Regions from separate parts of the Homo sapiens genome. Here region 1 is reported to be linked to region 2. Evidence: microRNA targets listed by miRTarBase, many of them from high-throughput screens and not tested one by one. Region 2 holds a microRNA gene; the other region holds the end of a gene's coding sequence.

What was found. The annotated mature microRNA hsa-miR-593-5p reads AGGCACCAGCCAGGCAUUGCUCAGC and lies in region 2 at 1,133-1,157, opposite strand. An mRNA with a match to its seed (bases 2 to 7 or 8) in the 3' UTR can be bound and repressed. Matches are read on the target gene's strand: a 7mer-m8 pairs with bases 2 to 8, a 7mer-A1 pairs with bases 2 to 7 and ends in A, and an 8mer does both.
Region 1: miRTarBase lists MIPOL1 as a target of hsa-miR-593-5p. Seed matches in the 3' UTR shown: 7mer-A1 at 2,507-2,513.

Annotation. Positions count from the first base shown.
Region 1 is chr14:37,546,504-37,550,032 of GRCh38, reverse strand. MIPOL1 (mirror-image polydactyly 1) reads right to left here. Exons shown (of 13, transcript NM_001388067.1): 13 at 1-3,128. The coding sequence ends at 3,062. Among named protein-coding and RNA genes, the nearest start is that of FOXA1, 47 kb to the left of the region's middle. RefSeq lists a silencer at 2,895-3,189.
Region 2 is chr7:128,080,033-128,083,032 of GRCh38, reverse strand. It overlaps MIR593 (microRNA 593), which reads right to left and starts at 1,172; the gene lies at 1,073-1,172. SND1 (staphylococcal nuclease and tudor domain containing 1) reads right to left here. Exons shown (of 24, transcript NM_014390.4): 18 at 1,532-1,673.

The sequences.
Region 1 (3,529 bases), not on the chromosome of region 2:
AATAACTTTGCTTTAACTGCTTATACCTTGCTTATAACCAATAACTTTGCTTATTACTGGTTTTAGCTCTAAATTGCTCTAGGAGATAGAGCAAGCCTTGAAGTTTAGACTACCATGTTAAAAAACTAAGCTGATAGGTTTTAGCATCAGGCCAAATTAAAAACAGTACAAAGAGACTCATGTTATGTTTTATTAGCAATGAATTGTCACAATATTCCTAATTAGTGAAGGCTGAGGCAAAGCATACTGCCACTATAATACCATAGAGAGGTGGTAATAATGTGATGCTGTTTACACATGCAGTTCACATTATTGTACTTCATTGAAAAAAATGTGTACAATCTTTTGATTATTAGGGAATTTGTATGTAGTATGTGAAAGAGATGGTACTATCACAACAGAAATTGCAAGAGTAAAATCTTTACTTTGAAATTTTTTTCTTACAGAGAGATTTAGAGACTCATAGTTGCATGGAGTGTGGTTATAAGATCTTAGTTCTAGGTCCTAGCCAGTCCTTGGCAAATTCCAAGGCTTACTGAGTCTGTTTCCTCATCTGTAGAATGAATATAATAATAATTATAATGACAGTAATACTAAAATTATCATCACCATCGTTATTATATGGGTTATATATATAATTTATTATTATTATGATTGTCGATAGGATCAAATGAAAAAACAGATGTAAAAGGACTTTGTAAATCATCAAGTGCTACAAATGTTAGTATTAGCATTTTGCCTTTCCTGTAAATTACTTATTTTTACAAGAAGAAGTGAATTCTCATGTTACTATAGGATTTAGAGTTGATGATGTGTAAAGCAAACTCAAAGCAACATTTCTCAGCAGTGTGGAATACTTCTAAAGTTGCATTATTGTTGAATACATAGAGAACCTATCTTCAGTAGGCAAGGCTATTCCTTCATACAGAAAAAATATATAAAGACCATCTGACACACTGTTGATGGACACTTTTAAGTGTAAGAAATTAATTAAGATAATATTTGGCTGTAATACTTTGCATTTGAAATTTTGTAGACAATTCATTTTCAAGAGGATGTGATATTTTTGGGAGATTACCTATACTGAACAATAGTGGATGTTAGAATTATTTTGCAAATTTAACTTTATAATATCATATTCTATAAAAGTTCTGCATATTAATTATAGGAATTGGTTTTTCTAATTTGATCATTTAAGCGTAGAAAGATTTGTTTGGAAATTGTGAAATGTCTTTATACTATATTTTGTGTATTCTAAAAGACAAAATAACTCAAGAAAAGTTCATCTGCTTTCAACATTAAACCGAAAATTCAAATTTACTTGTGATTTATTTTAAGTGAGATCAGGAATGGACTACTTTGTGACAAAAATTGTTTCTCTTTACTTACCTGCACCTCCCAGATGACTTTAAAGATAATGTTTCTTCACATAGGGAGCTGTTACACGTTTCAAATAGAGCCCAGAGACAAGACTCCATGCATGACCAAATCATTACATATTTCTCTATTATAGAGTCATTGGTCTATGAGAGGATATAATTCTCTTTAGGACTATAGAGCAAATTAAATCAGTTTATTTTTAACCCCTGTTGTCCCTTATTTTCTAATTCTCATAGTTAAAAAAGTTACTTTAATGGATACAGATTTAATAAGGAAGAAATAGAGTTTGTTAGCATTATGATTCTTTTGTGATCTATGACAAAGTAGCTTACATTTTCCTGTGGAGTAAAAAAAAATTGAAATGGATAATCTGCTATGGTATATGAAAGAATGGTACAATAAATTGTCCTGAATGTACTTATCCTGTAAATAGGCAATGGTAGATAATTTAGCTCAATCTTAAAGATGAATTAAAAACGTATAGACTTAGAAAAAATTTTACTTCCCTACAAAATTTTTGCTAATTAAATCTCTACTTGTCTATTTCATCCTGTTCCAGGCACAGTCATTTCCTCTTGGTCTTTCGTCTGTCTAATCTAAAAATATGAAAGTATTTTGCCTATAACTAATTACATAAAAATCTCAGTTCTATTCATAACTTCATATGACTGCTATGCTGTAACTATCTTATTTCTGGAATAAAATAAAAAGCAGGTAACCTTAACCAAATGGCAAGTTTACTTTTTTCTAAATTCTTATATTTCTACATTACAATTGTATTGAATATTATATATTAGATCCTCCTCCTCCACAATAAAAATCAAATGGCAATTAAAAAAAGATAAACAATAAGAATACTTAATAGGTTTGATGGTCTCTTTTAAGACAGAGGCATGCTAATTTTCAAGCAAAAATGACAGAGACTTATAGCTTAAGTAGAATTCAGATAATTATTCAGACCCAATATTAAAAAATACTGACAATGTGAATTTATAAGTACACATTAACAGTCTCCTCTTTTTATTGAAAACAGTTTGCATTATTTGTAGTGAAACAAAAATCATGCCTTGATGAATGTAATTTTAATATATCCATCTCTTATTAAACAAATTATACATTTAATTCTTGGCACCTATATTTAATATCTTTTATACTAACAAAGATTACATACACGCATTGAAGGAAGACTACACACTCATGTCTAAGCCTCTCTCATCAGTTAAGAAATATACCCTATATTGAAAAATGCATGTATTTGAAGTTTTGACCTAACACAGTGGATTAAAGCTTAGACAATATTTACTTTGCCGCACTTTGATTCAGAAAGGGCCATATGTGAAGATATGATCCTAACCAACTTTAACATGTTTCTATAATGATCTCTCAGTAAAAAGATTTATATTAAAGATATTGAGATATAAAATAGTTACAAAATAAGCTGTAACCTTATAGCTACCCATTGGTAAAAGTCTATAGTTAATATATTTGGATAAATAACTCAAGTCAGCAGCAAAGTGGTTAAACATTTGTGATTTGATTTTATCTCAGCTTGGAATGTGGTTGGAGTGTCCCACTTCTAACAACTGTTTGCTAAGTTAAGGCTTTGGTGTTTACACAGTGTTGAATGAAGCAGCCTGGTCACCAGATGTGATCGCTTCCCCAGACTGTCGTTTTTTTTCAATCAGATCACTGTCCTCATGGTCCCGGTTCCAACCTTCTTCCTCAGTACATCCACCAGCCTTTCCAACCTAAGTTGGGGTTGGGATGGGGGTGAGAAGGGGAAAAAAAGGGCAATTATTGTTAAGAATGTCCTGGCTGATAAAGGACAGTATTTGCCTGTGACCAAGCAGTCCTCACGGTCATGTTAAGAAACAAAGCATTACTGTGAGAGACACTGCTACAGAGTGCCAAGTATTTGAGGTTAAAAAACCCAGCAACGACACAAACTTTAACCCAGATCCTTGAATTATGTCAGCATTAGATGCCACACAAAATTTATAGGACACTTATTTCAATACATTTAGCTACTTGCATTAAGGTTGTGAATGAATCATTTACTATGCAATGACAGGATCACATATTAAATGTAGAATAAACTGATTTTACCTAAGAAAAGCACATATTTCAAAACACAAATATCAGCAATGTT
Region 2 (3,000 bases):
GGGGCCTTCCTCTCTGGAGCCCACCACAAATCCCCAGGTGGCCTGCCAGGAAGGGCCTCACTCCCTTCTCTTCCAGCATTCTAAGGACACATGGTTTTCTCTTTTCTCTTGTTTTCTGCCTCAGATTTCTGCTCTCTAAGACTTCAGGGGCTTGTTCTGAGTCAAGGCGGGTCCTCCCCAGCAGGACCCAGAGGCTGAGTAGAGCCTGCCTGGGAGTGATCGCATCCTTTTGCTCAAGTTCTCTGGTGGGCTGGCGGGGATTTTGGGGTGGTGGATTCCAGCTGGTTCCTCTGCCCAGGAACGGCTCTTGTTCCCACTGAGACCACCACTACAAGACTCCTTCCCTGTCACATGACCCAGCCCTAAAGGCTGGCCACCGCCCCGGTTCATTCAGGCAACTGCTGGAGCAGCTTTCAGCAGGACTGTGGCTGACCTCAAGAGAACCTAATCCCGCAGGCTCGTGGGCTCCATCTCTACCCCTCCCCCTTGCGTTTTTCCTTTTTCAAGCACAGCCAGCCCAGGGCCAGGAATGGTCAAGTTTTTCCTGGTGAAATGACACTGCCACAAAGGCAGCTGCCTGGGAAACAGCATTAGAGGGAAGTGGCTGAGACGGGGCTGGAGCGGACCTGGGGTGGGCTGAGGAGGCTGGGCAGAGCTGTGTCCTGCCATCTGGGGGACTGCCCAAGTGCTGCTGACACTTCTAGCCCCCTCTGTCCACCTGTGCCTACCATGATTTGTTTCCTGGGATCCAGAAGCAGCTCTAAGAGCTTTTCCTTCCGCTCCAAACTCAACTGTTTCCCTGCACAGGGTGGCCATGAGAAAAGGGAGGTCAGGGTGGAAAGCGTAAGCGGTTGGAGGTGTAGTCGGGCTAGCGGCTGCCAGAGCTCTCTCCTGCCCTTTGGCCTCCAGAAACCCCAGGTCTCTGCCCAGGGGACCCTGGCCACAGTGCACACCACTCAGGACGGAAGGAGGAGAAGGTCCTTCAGAGACTGCCCGGGGATGTCTTCCCCTAGAGCGCTGCCTGTTTCCATGGAAACTGGCTATCACTCAGGGCTATGTTAACCTCTAGAGAAGGAGAAACCCCAGCAGAGACAAACCCAGCACCACTCCTTGCTCCCCCAGAGGGAAACGGGCTGAGCAATGCCTGGCTGGTGCCTGACAGATTCTGGGGGCTACAAATCATCCTGCCCAGCATAGCCAGGGGTATGTAGGAACAAACAATCACCTAAGAGACTCAGAGCTCCACCCAGATAAACCTGGTTATCTCACCTGCGTCCAGAGGACCTGTCCGGCAGCACCTCCATGCCTGAGCCCAAGCCAGGGCTCATGTGAAGGCTCCTGAAGTAACTCCAAGCCCAGAGGAGCAGTGGGACAAGGCAGGGAGACAGGGGCGGCAACGTGAGCTCTTCAGGGGAGGCTCCTGGACTGCCTAGGCATTGTTCCTCCCACCCACTGGGCAGAGGCCCCCTACCCCCAGGCAGCGCCAGCTGGACCAAGCCAGGAACCACGAGCCAGCGGCCTGAGCACTCACCGGTCTCCACATCCTGCACGTAGAAGTGCAGGTCATCAGTGATCTCAGTCACAAACACGGGCTTGTAGCTAGCAGATCGCTCCTTCTCCTCCAGCACTGGCATCACCTCCTCCACGGGCTGCTCCTCATAGTGGGCCCAGACCTGCATGTTCAGTCGGCAGAGGTGAGAAGAGGGCGAGGAAGTGAAGTCATAAAAGACACTGGGAGGCCAGGCGTGGTGGCTCATGCCTGTAATCCCAGCACTTTGGGAGGCCGAGGCGGGTGGATCACGAGGTTAGGAGTTCAAGACCAGACTGGCCAATATGGTGAAACTCTATCTCTACTAAAAATACAAAAAATTAGCTGGGTGCGGTGGTGGGCGCCTGTAATCCCAGCTACTTGGGAGGCTGAGGCAGGAGAATCGCTTGAACCTGGGAGGCACGGGTTGCGGTGAGCCAAGATCATGCCACTGCACTCCAGCCTGGGCGACAGTGCAAGACTCCGTCTCAAAAAAGAAGAAAAAAAAAAGACACTGGGAAAGGGGTTTTGGGCAAATGGGATCGGCCCTGGGCGAGTGACTGTGGGGCACTCGATTCACACCAGGCTGAGCCCCTGAAGCCCTCTATCTCGGAGGGGAAAGGTGAGTTCTCTAAAGTCCTGATCTAGCAGTTCTCAAATTCTGGCAGGCATCAGAACCAACAAGGGAATTTATTAAAAATGCAGGCCCCAGATCCTACCCCAGGCCTACCAAATTACAATCTGTTCTGAGCATCCCAGAGAGTAAAAAAGAGCAAAACCAGATCCCAGGCTATCTCATGCACGTCCGAGTGTGAGAGCCCTGCTTTCATGAACTCTTTGGCTCTGGGCTCCTCACACCCGCACCTCTCTTGCTCCAGCTCCCCATCTCCCTTCCCCGTGGCACTCTGCAGGGCACTCTGAATTCTGCAGGACCTCCTGCTGTCACAGGGCTCCTGGTGCTCCTGAAGCAGTCCAAGCCACAGCCCTAGGCTGGGGAAGAGCTCACCAAGAATGCTTCTGCTCAGCAACTTTCCCTTTCTCCATCCTCCTCACCTCCAGCAGGTTGCTCTGACCTCAGCCCAGAAGCTGGGCCATGCGCTCTCCACCCTTCCCTCTCTCCCTTCCTTCCCCAAAGCCCTGTGCTGTCAGGGCTGCAGTGGCTCAGAAGCTGATTTGACGCGACAGCGTGTCAAGTCCAATCCTGCAGCCAGGAGATTATCCAAATGGTGAGGTCTGTCAGAGCAGGGGAGGGAGGTGGCTTTCCAGCTGAGCAGCAGGAAGGGTGGGTGGGAGAGTGCAGAGAATGGATCACGCGTGGGGTCCCACAGACGCACACAGGAATAAGGATGATTAAAAGTATTTGCCCAAAACTTCTGTGCTTATTAGGTGCCAGGTACCATTCTAAACATTCTCCAAATATTAATTCATTTAGTCCTTACAACAACCCTTTGAGTAGGTCTTGGTATTATCCC